Linked DNA regions of Homo sapiens. The protein of the gene in region 3 purifies or fractionates together with the protein of the main gene of each other region. This does not show direct contact. Each region holds a gene or a part of one and is shown on either strand. Other genes may lie near its edges.

Region 1 (4,150 bases), on a different chromosome or scaffold from region 3:
GTGAGTGTGGAAGGGAAGGATGGGAGGGACTCCCAGCCCCAGGCCCTCCTACCTGCTGTTGAGGTGGTCCTGGCAGGAACGCACCTCATCTGAACTGGGGTGGCCTCCTTCCACCAGCTCCTGGACTGTGTGGTTCACGTCCAGAACGCGGCCCATCAGGCTGTTCATCTCTTGGTCCAGGCTCTCGAATCTGCAGGAGGATGGAGATGCTCAGACACCCGAACCCTGCGGACCTTGGTTTTATGAAATACCTTCTACTGGTTCTACTCCTAATTCTCAATCCACCCTTCTTTTCAGCCTCCTTTGTGGGCTCCTTCTCTTCTACTTGCTGCTTATTTTATTTAATTTAATTTAACTTATTTAATTTAATTTAATTAATTTATGTATGTATGTATTGAGACAGAGTCTCGCTCTGTCACCCAGGCTGGAGTGCAGTGGCGCGATTGTGGCTCACTGCAACCTCTGCCTCCCGGATTCAAGCGATTCTCATGTCTCAGCCTCCCATGTAGCTGGGATTACAAGCATGCGCCACCACGCCCAGCTAACTTTTCTATTTTTAGTAGAAACGGGATTTCACCATGTTAGCCAGGCTGGTCTCCAACTCCTGATCTTATATGATCCACCTGCCTTGGCCTCCCAAAGTACTGGGATTACAGGCGTGAGCCACCACGCCCAGCCTCTACCTGATGTTTAAATGTGAGATTCCTCAGCAGCAACTCCACCCTGAGCCCTCTGGGTTTTCCTTCACACCCTTCTTCAATGATTCCACCCAGCCCCACAGCCTTGGTCTTTGCCCCTGAACTCATGACAGTCACACCTCAGTCTCCAGCCTCAACCTCTTACCTTTTGAACCTGTCTTCGACCTCAAAGCCTACTGTATACCTTCTTGGGGCTATTCACACCCACCTGACTCAAATTTGTTCTTCCTCTGGGCCCCCATGTTGGGGACAGCACTGTCATCTGCCAGGCCAGAGCCCTGGGCTTTGTTTTGGAAAATCGCTCCAGCCCATCAGTCTCCATGGCCTGTTTACTTACCTCCCGCCCTGGTCTAATCTTGTTCCGCTCCATCTGGGTCCCCAGCCCAGTTGCCTCTCTGGGTTCCCAGCCACAACTCTTACCCGCTCCAACCTGCCCTCCACATGGCAGCCACTGAGGTCTACTTTAAGCTAGACATGGTCCTCCCATCTTTAAATCAATGTTTCAAAGAACTGGGCAACTGCAGGCACAGTAGGGGCAAGGAGCAGCCCTGTGTTTCCAGCAGTGCCCAGCACAAGACCTAGAAAGGCATAGGCACTCAGTAAACACCTGCTGAATGAATGTATGGATGAATAAGATGCTCAGACAGAGTGGTGCAGAGGGGGAATAGGCATTGTTCACCCACTAATTGAACAACTCATTGCTAAGTCAGCCAACAGACAAGTCAGTATACAATATGTCATGGGATGGTAAGTGCTACAAAGAAATGTAAAACAGGATGAAACAATGGAAAATCACAAGAGTCAGAGCTATTTTAGTAGCTAGGGAGGTGACATTTATGCAGAAGCAATGGGAGGCCTCCCAGCAGAGGGGCCAGGCTGAGGTGTCCCTGTAGAAGCATAGGTCGTTGATTTCATGCTTGGCGAATGTAAGCCTGGGTAACAAGAGCAAATGCTGGGGGAATGCTTCCTCTACCCCCAGGCATTTGCTTCGTATTCTGCATGTATGAACTCATTTACCGTTCATCACAAGCCTGGGTAGGGACTAATATCACCCCCATTATACAGGTGGGCAAGCTGAGGTTCAGGAAGATTAGGCAGGTTGCAGAACTGTCACAAAGCTGGCTATGGGTGAAGCAGGGATTGGAACTCCTAGTTCCAGCTGAGCAAACATGGGAACTGTTGAGCCAATGAAGGTGAGACTGGGTGCATGAGGAAGGGGACCCCGGAGTCCCACATGTGCGCGCTCACCGGTGCTGCACCACCTCGACGTCGTCGAGTGAATCCGGCACACGCATGGAGAGCAGCCATTGCTCCTTCTCGCCGATCCACAGCTCACACGCGTGCACCTCGCCAAACATGCGGTAGACAGCGAGCGCGTCCCGCAGCCACTGGCGCCTCAGCGCCGCCACTTCGGTCACCTCAGCGAACAACTGCTCTGCTTCCACCACGCGCACCTGCAGCGCCACCACCAGTGGCCCTGCGCCACTGGCACCCCCGAGTGTCGCCAGCTGGCGCCGCAGGCCGCTCACGGGCCCGCGATGTGCCTCCACCTCCCCGGTGAGCGCGCGGTGCTGGCGCGCCAGGCGGCGGCTGGAAGCTTCGTCGTGGCCGAAGTCACCGGCGGCTGCCAGGCGGTAAGCGTCGCGAAGCCAGTCCAGCAGCCCGTCGAGGTCAGCGCCGAACTGGTGCAGCGCCCGCGCCTCCTGCAGCCGCCGCTCTCGCCGCGCCGCCGCCTCTTCCAGCCTCTGCCAGCGGCGCCGGGCGCTCGCCGCGCGCTCCGCCAGGCCTACCAGGTGCACGGTGTCTGCTCCCGGGCCGACGGCACCGCCGGCCGCAACCAGCTCCTCGCCACACCGCAGGGCCTGCTGCAGCAACGCTCGCCGCCCGCCCAGCTCGCCCTGCAGGATCTTGTGCTGGGCCAGGAGGCGCGCTGTGCTGGACAGGTCATGCGCGCCGCCCGCTGTTCCCGCTGCGCCCGCTGCGCCCGCCGCACCGCCGCCGCCCGCAGCCTCCAGGAGACGCTCCTTGTCGCGCGCCCAGCTCTCGGCCTCCTCCAGCTCCTGCAGCAGCGCCCACAGGCTCCGCGAAGCCTCCAGCTCCGCGCGTCGCCGCGCTGCCTGCTCCTGCAGCTCCGCCAGGCAGCCGTGCACGTGGTTCACGCGGTTGCAGATGACCTGCGGGTCGCAGGGCTGGTAGCCTGAGCCAGGAGAAGGGGAGCATCCAGGATTGGTCACAAGCCAAGGGGCGCCCAAGAGAGGATGGTGCGGGCTACCTACCCTGTCCTTGGTGTGACTTCATCAGATGCCGGGTCACGTGGCTCCTCCTCCAGGCAGCCTTCCCTGACACCCCAAGGCTGGAGCAGGCTCCTCCTCGACCCTCTCAGGCTTCTCTGCTTCCCCATCCTAGCCCTGACTACTCTGTGTTGTCATTGCCTTGTCCTGTCTCCCCCACTGGACTGAGAGCTCCTTAAGGGCAGGACCTGGGTCTGTCACACCCTATCCCAAACACTGCCCAGCAAAGGGTGGAGCCCAGAGCTGTAGCCTAGTGAATGTAGTGATTTGTTGACTGAATGATGGATGGATTCAGAGCATCTCAGATTCTGTATATTTGAGTGAAAATTGTGCTTATGTCAGAACTGAGTCAAATGAAACTTCTTTGTTTTTTGTTTGTTTGTGTGTTTGAGACAGATTCTTACTCTGTTGCCCAGGCTGGAGTGCAGTAGCGCGATCTCGGTTCACTGCAACCTCCACCTCCAGGTTTAAGCGATTCTCCTGCCTCAGCCTCCCCAGTAGCTAGGATTACAGGCGCCCGCCACCACGCCTGGCTCATTTTTGTATTTTTAGTAGAGACGGGGTTTCACCATGCTGGCCAGGCTGGTCTCAAACTCCTGACCTCCAGTGATCCACCCGCCTTGGCCTCCTAAACTGCTGGGATTACAGGCATGAGCCACTGCCACCGGCCAACTTCTCTTTTCTTAAACCATGTTTCTAGGTTCCCTCTGTCATCCTCTGTTGCATTATCTATCAATCCCAGTGGTTATCTGCACTCCTTTTTCTTTTTAAAATAGAGACAGGATCTCACTATGTTGGCCAGGCTGGTCTTGAACGGCTGGCCTCAAGCAATCCTTCCACTTGGCCTCCCGAAGTGTTGGGATTATAGGCATGAGCCACTGTGCTTAACCCCGAACTCCCTCTTTTTCCTTAAATAGTTCACCTTCCTCCTGGATGGCTAGTTGGCGACTAGAAAACAGTGAAGTTAATTTAATGGGTCACAGCCAGCATTTGTTTGGTGGAATAGAATAGAAGGAACGGAAAATATCACAATGCAAAACAAGGTCGGGGGAGTATTTTTGTTGTTGTTGCTGTTGTTGTTTGGTATTGTTTGTTTGTTTGATTGAGACAGAGTCTCTCACTGTCGCCTGGGCTGGAGTGCAATGGCTTGATCTCAGCTCA
Region 2 (4,150 bases), on a different chromosome or scaffold from region 3:
CAACCTCTTAGTCATAAAAGCCTTCTTCCCTAGCTACACACTTTCTCTAAATATCTTTAGTTTCATCAGTGATTTCTTCAGACTAGCCCACTTTCAGGCTCTGAGGTCCAAATGCTTGACATACATTTGGATGTCTCAGACACCTCAACAATGTCAAAAACAGCGTATCCAAACCCAACATATTACTTCCTACTGGTTCTATCTCCACTTACTTTGAAATCATTCTTTTCTTTCCATCTCCTATGCCACAACTGTGGGCCAAGCCATGATCATCTCTTGCCTGGGATCACTGCAATAATCTCATTAGCTTCCCTGCTTCTACTCTTCTTCATCTCTAATCCCTGTCTTACACGTACCCAAAATAGTATTTTAACAACATAAATCATGTCACTTCCCAGCCTGAATTTCAGAAAATTCAGAGTCCTCACAGCCCAGTAAGGCCAGAGATCATCTCGTCTCCCCTTTCTTCTTTACATTTATAGCCACACTGGCCTCTTTTCCACCTTTAAAATAGCTACTTTTCTCACTTTCACTTGCATTTCTCGTTTTGCTTGGAATGCTCTTCTTGCAGCTATTTACATGGCAGACCCACTATGAACCATCAGATTGCAACTCAAATGCCACATCCTCAGAAATTCTTAATGCAGTCTCTCTCCATTACTTTATTTCATTACACCGTGCATATCTTATATAGCCCTTCTGCACTTGTAATTGTCTTATTTAATATCATCCCCCCTGATATGCCACCCTGCCACCCAGAATATCTTAAGGCCTATGAGAACAGGGACCAAGTCTTATTCCTCCCAGAATTCATTTTTCACTTGACATGGTGTCCATGTATCTATCATTCTACCTACTTAGCTGTCTTCTTCCTCTAGAATATAAATCTCAAGCCTATTCTGGTCACTGCAGTATTTCCAGCTCCTAAAAGAGTGCTACACATTAGGTTTTGAATCAATTAGCTGATAAAGTCACTGAACAAAAGTGGTTTTCTGTTAGTGCTTTTATTTATGTTGCTTCTTTGCTCAGAATATACCTAACTGCTCGCTCTCTTTCTTGGTTTAGATAATACTTCCTCCTTCTTTAAGAATCAGATCAGGTAATTAACCTCTAGGAAGTCTTACCTGACCCCTCCAGTGGTCAATACAGTACAGTAGTCTTTTAAGCACATGTGTTTTAGACAAAGCTGGTATTTTAACACACTAGGTCTATGCTCTATACATTCTCGATTTTTTAAAAATGTATTTTTAAACATGTCTAACGCTCTATACATTTTTGATTCTTAAAAATCTGCCAAATAAGAGTAATAATATGCATACCTCATAAAGGTAGACATTTAAAAAAATTACTTGTAAAACACATGGCTTAAGTATATGGCACACAGTGAGAACTCAATAAAAAGATGCTATTAGGCTAGGTTGGGAACTCGTGTTCTCTGCTCATATAACATGCTCTGTATATACCCAGCAAGGTAGTAATATCTTGGGTTGCAATAATCACGTGTTTGGTTCGTCCCACATAAGACAGTAACTTCTTTGAGGCCGGTGATCAGATCTCAAAACTCTTAAGTCTCTAGTACCTTAGGATAGTGCCTGGCACACAGTAGTTGTTCAACAAACTTAAAAAAGGTGAAAAACCAAATAGCAAAAAAAAATTAAAGAGGGAAATCAGTCTAGAGCTGCATGCCATCCAATATGACAACTACTAGCAAGATATTTTAATTTGAATTAAATAAAATTTAAAAATCCTGTCTTTTAGTTGCACTAGCCACTGAAAACTAGAAGTCAGTATTCACACATGGCTAGTGGCTACTGTACTAAACAATATACAGAACATTCCTATTATCACAGAAAGCTCTACTAGACAATGCTAGTCTAGAGACTGTGAAAACAAATAATGGCACCTATTATTTAATTTAAGATAAATAATAACTGAAAATTCTACCCACTTCAAGGCACTGTGCTAGGTTATGGTGCTATGAACACATAGGATCCCAAAGAGACACTGTCTTTAAAAACCATAAAAGCTAGCATATGCACTGTAGGTACTATTATTTCATTTATCTTGGGTTCACACAGAAAAAAAAAAAATCACAAACACCAAGAATTTTACTAGAAAACTGGTTACAATTAAGGCCTAGGTCCTCTATAGTTATGAGATTCTGCACATGCAGAACACAGAATGTTTCACCACCTCAGGTCTCACAGGATCTTCAATCCCCACAACAGCAATGCATGTAAGGCCGGTGACAATATCATTTTCATTATCCCACTCTGGTTCTGGTTCTCCTGCTGGAAAATCTCTGAATGCAAGACATATGGTTCTCAAGCCTTCTGATGCCATCGGTTCAATCACAGTTTTTACAATATCATCACGGTCCCTTGGTCTGAATACTTTTGCCTCACCATTAGCACTCAAGATTTTGAAACACCTAAAAGGAAATGTTGAATCCAAACATCAATAATTTAAAAAAATAATGGTTAATGCCATTTAAGTGAACTGGCAGGCCTAGAAATCATGGGATCTGATATCTGGAATTTAGAGAATTACATATAATTCATTTTTATAGACTTAAATTCACTTTTCACCCTCCCTTTTACAAAACAGAACTAATATGTATGGTTCTCATTTGACAGTTCTCCATTTATCAATTACTCTAGAACTTCTCTAAACCTTGTCTTTTGGAAATGCAGTGCTTTCAAACTTTCATAAAGAATCCCTGGGTGGCAAAGGAGAATAAACTATATACTTCACCATTTTGGTACAGAATCAGACATTAGTTTGAAATAATACCAAAATCACAAATGTTTTCTTCTTTTAAGGTAAAAAGCCAAGCGTAGTCAACCCCTTACCTGAGATGTTGTTTCATCACCTATATTGTTTTAACCATGAAAGAAAAAAAATAACTTATTGTTAAAATAAGCATTCTATCAGAATGAGAGTTAATGCCAAAAGTTATTTTCAGTGACACTACTACCTTTTCTTTCATTACATAATGAATAAAAATCATACTATATACCTATTTAAAGTTTGTTTTTCATAATGCCTCTCTATACTCCTCTCCCTTGATGATGCCATCTCTTCCTGCTTCTAGGGAGGTAATTCCCAAATCCACATCTTCTGTTTTGTTTTTCAAAGCTTTCCATCACTGCTGAAAAATTCTACCCAGATGTTTTATCAGTACCTAAACCTTAATGGATGAAAGACTGGAAGCTGCCTCTTCACTGCCCATGTAATGTGCATCAACATTACCCTAATCATTTTGATGTAAGTCTAAAATTTCACCTTAATACTTATTTTTCCTGATCATCTCTCTACTATTAGCTCCTAAGTCCTATACATTTCTCCTCTGAACAGCCTCCTCAATGTGTCCACTCCTTTTTATTTCTCCTGCTACTACTTTCTTCTGGTTCTTACTTCAAGCTACAAAGCTACAGCTATTGTAATAGCAATAGCCTTTTAACTGATATGTCTCTAGTTGATTTTTTTTTTCCCTCTAACCCACCTTGTTCCCTGATGCAAGAATTATCTTTAATCACAGCTTTGATGATTCTACTACTTGAAGAAAAAAATACCTCATTTGCATTATCTGGCTTACTTCAATTTTAACTGCTCAGCCCAACATTTAAAAAGTCTCCACAACAAAATGCAAATATTACTGTGGGAACACTTGCTGTATGTTTACTGTCCACCAGGCTTCACACTAGACAGTTGGTATGCATTACTTCATTTAAGTGCCACAGAGTTGGTGGTCATCACCCGCTTTCTCAGATGAGAAAAATGGAAGTAAGGGAAAAATCTGCCCCATATCCAGAAGCTAGTTAGTTGCAGAGAAAGAGTCAATGCCTGATCAGTTTTGACTAAAAAAAATTCTCTCCTAAACCATCTATCTACTACCCAGCAAGCCAGGGTTGAAACAGATTTCTAACCTTTTCAATGAAATCAGGTAACTGAGTGTACTGTGGCAAGAAGAAAGCTGTATATGGCCTGTGTGCCACAAAAGCCCATCACTATTCAGCTGAACTATACAACCAGATATTCCCCTCCCCAGTATGACCTGCATATTCTCATCTCCTTTCCTCTGCTGTGGTTTCCCCACCTCGAAGTTCTCATTTCATACCAAAATCTATCTTAAATGCCACATCCCTAC
Region 3 (4,150 bases):
CAACACACTTTCTAATTTTTAGAAAACACTACAATCTTACAGAGAGATCTGATGATTAACACATTAATGCTCCTTGGCTATTTCTCAGATATACTCTCCACATGTTTTTCTGGTTAAGTAGCATGATATGCTACAACCCATTTGAAGAAAGCATTGTTTTGCTCTACTACCAGAGTCTCAATCAAAGTTCAAGCTCTCAACCTACATCTTCCTTTCTCTATGGCCTTTCTTCACCCATCACTATCATAACTATAGCTTTCGCTCCTGGAAGAAAACTGATAATAAAGCCGAGTAAGAGAAGGGGCATTCTCTATAGGCCAGGATGGATCTGGACAGGGCGTAGTGCCACTGAGGATACTGTTCCCACATTTGAACAGCTGGCCTAAGGAGAACCGTGCTGCAGAAGAGTCCAGTGCGGAGGCCATTCAGTTGTGCCTTTGAGAGATGCTGCTGCTGATTTTGTATTTAGAAAGACCTCCCAAGAGCAGACCAGGAAAAATCCCCTGATGCCAGGCCACTAGATAGAGTTTCCAGGAACACCAGATCATTATAGTTCCCTTCCCCCAGACATGGAAAAACACCCAAAATGTAAGTTTCCTACCATTCTTGGAAATGATCCCTTTGAAGAGAATGATACTATTTGCTTCCAAAAATCAATGGCTATTCACAAGCAGAGTGGCTGGAGAGAGACTAAAGAATTCTTAGAGAGACTTCTCCCCCGTGCCCTGCAAAAGGGAGTCTCTCGTCGTCTCTGGTCAGAGGTGCAGAGTGCCTTCCAGGACCCCACCCACAGAAACGTGCAGATGGAGTTGGCCTAAGCAGCGGGAGGGCGCCTACCTGTGTAGCCAGCTAGGGCAGCAGCAGGAATGACAGGCTTGTCCTTATTGAGGTCAGCACGGTCCCGCACATAGTCCTTGAAGGTGCCCTTGGGCTTGTGGTTGGGCAGGGCAGCCGGATAGTCCTCTGAGTCGAAGCTGTCATAGGAGGGAACACGCTGCAGGCTGTTGAAAGATGACTGGCTGCTCCAGGACTGGGTGAGGCGATCACAACTATCGTAGCTCTCTATGCTTTCAAAAGAGTCCTGGCCCCCGAGTTTACCTGGAGGTAAAGGAGGAGGTAGGAAGAGGACAGGGGGAGGAGGGAGTGGGAAAAAAAAAAAACTGTAAAAACCCTCTTATGGAGGACAGATTGCTAATCAGATCTGCAGGAAGGACGGAAGAAGGGAGAGGCGAGTGGGAACAGAAGCTTCAGGGGTCATGGGTTTACTCTGAGGAAAGGGGCTGCACTAGGCCACCATCCGAGGGTCCACGGCCACTCTGCTGCCTGGTTTGAGAACTCCAAGTACAGAGATTCAGAGTCAAACGTTGCTCACATCTGTCGGAGTAGCGTTTGGGTCCTCAAGAGTTCTAAAGCCAGAAATCTAGAAGCTGAGGATCACACATGTTATGATATGATTTCTGGCTGATGTCGTAGGCCCAATGAATAAATGAAGAAATCAGAGCAATGTCAGGCTGAATTCCCCACTCCAGCTCAAGCCAATGAGATGACTTCAAAAGGCCCAGTTTGGAAAACATTTTGGTCATAAGAAAAAAGAATCCCATTAGACTAAGAGCAGATTAGCCTGTTTTGACCTTGGAACTAAGTGCTATTTTTTAGCATTTTTCCCAAATACTATTTTAATATGAAATACATGTACTGACCCTATGCCTTTTCAAATAGAGTAAGATGGTGTAAGATGCTTTTCCCAAGAGATTTTTTAAAATCACACACACTATCACTCTTCTAAACAGAAAACCATATTCTTTATCCTCTCCAAGTAAAATTATGTACTTGAAATTTAAACTTCATTGGAAAAGTGTAGGCAATATTTAAAAGGTTTATTAAAGAGTTAAGGTCCACAGCAGTGTCAGAAATCCTTTACTGTGTGAGTTGCTTAAGGCATTCTTAACTGACCACAAGATCATGCAAGTTCATTAATTTCCCAAACCAGGTTATAAACAGCTGCTATGATTGCACAATAGCTCCTGGAGAAATTTCCATTGGCAAAAATGCCACTAAAAAGGAGGCTAGCAAAAAAAAAAAAAAAATAGTTTTGGAGGAAAACAAATGAATCTAAGAGCGAAAAAGGCTCGCAGGAATGGTTTTTATATGCAACTTTCAGATACTTTTCAAGTAACCTAAGTTAAATCATAGGAGACTAGATGGTCACCTCAATTCAGCACAGGCCAAAAGGCAAAGGGATGTGACAAATGTTTACGGAGAAATATCCGTAAGTCAACTCTTAATTGTTCAGGGGTGGTTGATCTATAAATTTCAAATCCCAGAATAAGGCTGACTTATACAACTTCATATTAGTGTGCCTCCAGTGTATTTTTCCCTCCATGACAGCGGAGATTGGTTAAAACAATAAACATCAAACATGAACAGATGCCCAAACCTAAATTAAATATATAGGAAAATATGTTGCTCCCAACATTGTTTAAAGATCCGGATAAAATGTATTCGGTTGAGTGTGTACTTTTTGTAAAATCCACTGCTGTGGGTTTTCTCTACATCCTGACCCCCTCTGGAACTGCTTTAAACAGAAAGGTGGTGTCATCCGTTTCATCTCATTCCTTCCTCCACTCATCCATTCAGAGGAGGGTAATCTCTGGAAAGCAAACTGAAGAGCTTCATGGAGTTATCAGCCCTGCCCACCCAGTCCACTAGCAAAAGGGCACCTCTTCATTCTTACTAAAAATGAATATATATTTCTTTATAATTCTTAAAAATTCTTTCCCATTTACCCACCAGAAAAGTCATCTTTTTCACCTTTTTAGAGATCATTTAATTTTCTTTCAAGAAATTCACACTAAATGATTTAAGAAAACAGCCTACAACCAGAATGTCAAAGCCTTGTTTTAGCAGAACAGGAAATTCTGTGGCGTCTCATAAAAAGGTATTTGTTCATACCAGCTACTGATCTTCATGGTCACTTATTTTCTCTTTGAGACAAACATACCAAAAGCCTAAGAAGGAGAATTTATATTTTCATCAACACCGCACCAAGTCGATAGTATTTATGCTAAAGTCTCTCTGAAATGATTCCATTTCTATCAGCCAATTTTATACTTGGAGAAAAAGGACATCAGAATTTTCACAAGCAAGATAGTAGAGTTTCCAAGGAGTCCCACTAAGCAAGGGGACTAAACCAAGCCAGAACCAGTCTCTGGCAACCCCCCAAACATGAGGCAAATGCAACCCTGTTGAGAGTTGTGGTTTACAGCGGTAGGCAGCTTTCATTTTAGCTCGATTTCACAACCCTGGTGCTGGGAACCTTCATTTACGGGTATTTTCTCCAAAAATGGGTAGAATCCAACTGGATTAGATACTCAGTTATGCTGCTGCGCTCATGTAGGGAAACCTGTGTTCTCTAAACTGTCCACTAGCCAGCCTTTCTGAGAAGGGCCTCGGCGAGCTCCTTCCAAAGCTATCTGAGTCCACCAAACAGACCTCAGAGCACTCAAAACAGAAGATGCGGCAGCACCCAGCCACCCACTGAGTAGACTCGTACAAAGACAGTCCTTAGGGCCCAAATAAGTGGGGCATAGAAGCACTCTGTACGCTGTAATGCAGCCCGTGAATACTGTACTATGGTTAGTATAAATAACAATCAGCTAACAGTAATGCTTTCGGTCTAGACCAATCACAGCATCTCAGAATCAATTGGCCCTTTGCATAGGCCCTGTTTGCAGCACTTCTAACATGCAGAAAACAGCCCTGCACAAAATGGTCTTCCCCTCAAGTTTCTGTGGCCTGAACTTGGAGGGAGGGAAGAAGAGTGGAGCCAGAAAGAAATACCTCATGTCTCCTTGTAAGGGTCACTTTTGGTCCACAGTCATTAGTTTGGGGTTGGAGGGGTGGTAGGGACCAAAACCAAGAATGAAGAAAAGGAGAGGGAAAGAGACAATTACACAAATGCAAAGCCAGATGCAATTTCAAAACAATGTGACAGGAGATCGACCCAAAGTTACAACATGGCTGAGCCCAAACCCACAGGCTTGGCCTCACTGTGTAGATGTACAGAAAGTCCCACAAGGAAGAAAGTCGTTTTAATGCTTTGACTCGCCTGATAAAAAAGAAACACATGTACACACACTTGTGTGTATGT
Region 4 (4,150 bases), on a different chromosome or scaffold from region 3:
GAAGAGAAGAACCAGCCCTCCAGGAAGGAAGAACGACTGTGCCTTCCCGCCCACCTCCCGCAGCTCAACCCTGTCCGGCACGCTTTGCATATGATGTGGCTGTCATCTTATGTCTGGCCTGTGCTGTCACCCACCGGGATGTCCACCCACAAGGGCAGGGCCTGGTCTAGGCTGTTCTTAACAGCCACGTGGGTCAGGGAAGCGTTCGTTGGCTTTGGGCCCAAGAGGTGGGGTGTGTCTGTTTGCGTGTGTGTGCATATATGTGTGTCTGTGGGTGCATGTTTGCATGCATGTGCATGTATGTGTGCGCATGTACGTGTCTGTGTGCATGTGCCTGCATGCATGTCTGGGGGTGCGTGTGCATCTGTGTGCGTGCCTGGGTGTGCGTGTGTGCGTGCGTGCGTGCGTGCATGTGTATGTGATGTGTATGTGGTGTGCGTGTGTGTGCGCGCATGTCGGTGTGCGTGTGTGTGCGTGCATGTGTATGTGATGTGTATGTGGTGTGCATCTGTGTCTGCATGTGTCTGTGTAGCATGTCTGTATGTGTATGTGGTGTGCGTGTGCGTGTGTGCGTCTGTGTGTGTGCATGTGTACGTGGCATACGCGTCTGTGCATGTGTGTGCATGTGCGTATATATGTGCAAGTGCGTGTATGTGTGTCTGCGTGTGTGTGGATGTGTAGGTGACGTGCATGTGTCTGTGCGTGTACGTGTCTGTGTGCACGTGCGTGTATGTGTGCGTCTGCGTGCATGTGTGCGTGCGGTGCAGGGAGAGAGGCGGGAGGGGTCGTGAGCGGCGGATGCTGGGGCAGAGAGCAGGACGGCGCCTCCCCCGCGGCGGGCAGCTCACCTGGTGAAGCGGACCTTGCAGATGTTGCACTCGTAGGGCTTCTCGCCCGTGTGGGTGCGGATGTGTCGCGGCAGCTTGCCGGCGCCCTGGATGACCTTCTCGCAGATGGGGCACTTCTGGAAGGCCTTGGCTCGGATCTTCTTCTCCACCTTCTGCGACCAGGCCGGGTAGACGTCGCCGTCGTGGGCGCCGCTGAAGTACTTCAGGTAGTAGTCCATGACGCCCTTGTCGTCGGCCCGCGACTCCTCGTCGCTGTCCCCCGCCGCGGCCCCCGCCCGGCCCACCGATGACATCATCTGCTGCAGCAGCGTGCTGGCCGCCAGCCCGTCCACGTCGGGCCCGTCCCCGTCCTCGCCCTCGGCCGCTCCCGACAGGAAGCCCGGAGAGTCGCCCGGCTCGGGGGCCGCCTCCGACAGCGAGGCGGCCTCCTCCTCTCCGCCGCGGCCGTAGTGGCCGTTCTGCGTGGCGGCCGGCGGGGCCACCGGCGGCGGAAAGAGACCCCCGGTGGGGGCGTCCTCATCCCGCTCTGGCCACAGACCCGGGTTGCTGTCGCCCTCGTCCCCGTCCCCCGTCGGGGGCCGCTCGGCCGGGGGGCCCGGCCCATAGAAGTCTAAGCCGTTGCAGTCGCCCGCGGCCACGGCGGCCACAGCGGCGGCCACGGCCTCCTTGGTGGCATCCAGGTCATCATCGGACGCCCCAAAGGCGGACCACGGGAAGCTGGCAGCGGCGGCGGCGGCCGCGGGGGGCAGGCTGTTCATGGGGTTGCTCTGGAAGAACTCGAGGTACTCCTTGGCGCGGAGGAGGTTGCGCTGATCAATTTGATCTACAAGGTCCAGCTGCCCGGCGTCGGCGCCCGCGTCGGCCGCCAGGATCTGCCGGTCCAGGAGGTCGGCGCACACGTGGCTCACGGCGGGGATCTCCAGCAGGCGGGCGGCGCTGAGGATGTCACCCACGTTGGCTGTGCTGACGGTGAGCGTGGCCGTGTAGGCGAAGTCCATGAGCGCGGTGAGCGCCTCGGCGCTGACGAAGTCGATCTCGTACACGTTCTGCTGGTCCACCACGGCGCCCGACGTGAACAGCTTCTTGAAGTACTGGCTGCAGGCGGCCAGCACCGAGCGGTGCGTGGGGAACTCGCGGCCCTCCACCAGGATCACCACGTCGCACAGCAGGCCCTGCGTCCGCTGCTCGTTCAGCCCACTCAGGATGTCGCTGCTGTGGTCGGGGAACGGGATCCCGATGGGGCCGTCCACGCCGCCGGCCATCTTCCGCGCCGAGACCTGCAGCAGTGGGGAAGGAGAGGGCGCTCGTGAGTGGGGGTGCGGGGGTTCCTGTGCCCACTGACAAGGGCCCGAGGCCCTTGAGAAGCAGCGTTCCACCCTGCTCCCCCAGCCTCACATTCCCACCTGCACGTGAAGGCGGTCAGATGTCGCGCCTTTCCAGCCCCAGCTTCCCCAGCTGTGCACCAAAGCGATACATGCCCTGCCTCCAGCCTCTTTTCTTTTTTGTGTGTCTTTAATACAGAGACAGGCTATCACCATGTTGGCCAGGCTGGTCTCAAACCCCTGGCCTCGGCCTGGCGCGGTGGCTCACGCCTGTAATCCCAGCACTTTGGGAGGCCGAGACAGGCAGATCATGAGGTCAGGGGATGGAGACCATCCTGGCTAACACAGTGAAACCCCGTCTCTACTAAAAAATACAAAAAATTAGCCGGGCGTGTTGGCGGGGGCCTGTAGTTCCAGCTACTCGGGAGGCTGAGGCAGGAGAATGGCATGAACCCAGGAGGCAGAGCTTGCAGTGAGCTGAGATCACGCCACTGCACTCCAGCCTGGGCAACAGAGCAAGACTCCATCTCAAAAAAACAAAACAAATCAAAAAACCCTGGCCTCAAATGATCCAACCGCCCCTGCCTCCCAAGGTGCTAAGATTACAGGCATGAACCACGGCACCCGGCCAAGACTGTTTTCCATCTGTGCATGAGGATAGCCAGATGTCCCGGCTCCCCAGCCTCAGTTTCCCCAGCTGTTCCCAAGTGCAGTCAAATGTCCTATCCTCTAGCCTCAGTTTCCCCAGCTGTGCATGAGAATGGTCAGATGTCCTGCCTCCCCCAGCCTGTTTCCCCAGCTGTACACAAAAGCAATCAGACGTCATGTCCCCAGCCTCAGTTTCCCCAGCTGTACAGGAAGGCAATCAGGTGTCCCACTCCCAACCTGTTTCCCATCTGTACACAAGGGCGGCCAGCTGTCCTGCCCCCAGCCTCAATTTCCCCAGCTGTGCATGAGGACAGTCAGGTTTCCTGCCCCCCATCAGCCTCAGTTTCCCTAGCTGTGCCCAAGAGCAGTCAGATGCCCTGTTCTGTCTCATCAGCGTGAGATGAGGCTGGCAAAACCCACACTGGACGCTTAAATTTCACAAGCACACTGGCACCACCCCTCCGAGGAGGGCCCCCGGGAATGCCTGTTGAAAGGGCACTTTGAGGCCCGGCTCGGTGCTCACGCCTGTAATTCTAGCATTTTGGGGAGGCTGAGGTGGGCAGATCACTTGAGGTCAGGAGTTCAAGACCAGCGACCAGCCTGGCCAACATGGTGAAACCCTGTCTCTACTAAAAATACAAAAATTAGGCTGGGTGTGGTGGCTCACACCTGTAATCCCAGCACTTTGGGAGGCCGAGGCGGGCAGATCACCAGGTCAGGAGATCGAGACCATCCTGGCTGACACAGTGAAACTCTGTCTCTACTAAAAATACAAAAATAGATGGGCGTGATGGCACGTGCCTGTAATCCCAGCTACTCGGGAGGCTGAGGCGGGAGAATCGCTTGAACCTGGGGGGTGGAGGTTGCAGTGAGCCGAGATTGCACCACTGCACTCCTGCCTGGGCCACAGAGCGAGACTCCGTCTTAAAAAAAAAAATCAGCCAGGCGTGGTGGCGCGTGCCTGTAATCCCAGCTACTCAGGACGCTGAGGCAGAAGAATCGCTTGAACCCGGGAGGCGAAGGTTGTGGTGAACCTGGATGGAGCCACCGTACTCCAGCCTGGGCAACACAGCGAGACTCGGTCTGAAAAAAAAAAAAAAAGAAAAAGAAAAAGAAAAAAAAAAAGGGCTGGGCACTGTGGCTCACATCTATAATCCCAGCACTTTGGGAAGCCAAGGCAGGCGGATCACCTAAGGTCTGGAGTTCAAGACCAGCCTGACCAACATGGTGAAATCTCGTCTCTACTAAAAATACAAAATTAGCCAGGTGTGGTGGCGCGTGCCTGTAATCCCAGCTACTCGGGAGGCTGAGGCAGGAGAATCGCTTGAACCC

What was found.
Region 1: the proteins of ETS1 (region 3) and SPTBN4 purify together in Homo sapiens (affinity purification with mass spectrometry; one large-scale study listed by BioGRID and IntAct). This does not show direct contact.
Region 2: the proteins of ETS1 (region 3) and ATP2B1 purify together in Homo sapiens (affinity purification with mass spectrometry; one large-scale study listed by BioGRID and IntAct). This does not show direct contact.
Region 4: the proteins of ETS1 (region 3) and ZBTB7A purify together in Homo sapiens (affinity purification with western blotting; one study listed by BioGRID). This does not show direct contact.

Annotation. Positions count from the first base shown.
Region 1 is NC_000019.10:40,511,351-40,515,500, reverse strand, and holds part of SPTBN4 (spectrin beta chain, non-erythrocytic 4), read right to left. Parts: intron 2,896-4,150; coding exon 1,947-2,895; intron 191-1,946; coding exon 53-190; intron 1-52.
Region 2 is NC_000012.12:89,614,609-89,618,758, forward strand, and holds part of ATP2B1 (plasma membrane calcium-transporting ATPase 1), read right to left. Parts: intron 2,432-4,150; coding exon 2,194-2,431; intron 1-2,193. UniProt on the Homo sapiens protein: Catalyzes the hydrolysis of ATP coupled with the transport of calcium from the cytoplasm to the extracellular space thereby maintaining intracellular calcium homeostasis.
Region 3 is NC_000011.10:128,479,354-128,483,503, forward strand, and holds part of ETS1 (protein C-ets-1), read right to left. Parts: intron 1,099-4,150; coding exon 838-1,098; intron 1-837. UniProt on the Homo sapiens protein: Transcription factor. Directly controls the expression of cytokine and chemokine genes in a wide variety of different cellular contexts. May control the differentiation, survival and proliferation of lymphoid cells.
Region 4 is NC_000019.10:4,053,123-4,057,272, forward strand, and holds part of ZBTB7A (zinc finger and BTB domain-containing protein 7A), read right to left. Parts: intron 2,400-4,150; exon of another isoform or gene 2,387-2,399; coding exon of another isoform or gene 2,252-2,386; intron 2,126-2,251; coding exon of another isoform or gene 2,111-2,125; coding exon 849-2,110; intron 1-848. UniProt on the Homo sapiens protein: Transcription factor that represses the transcription of a wide range of genes involved in cell proliferation and differentiation.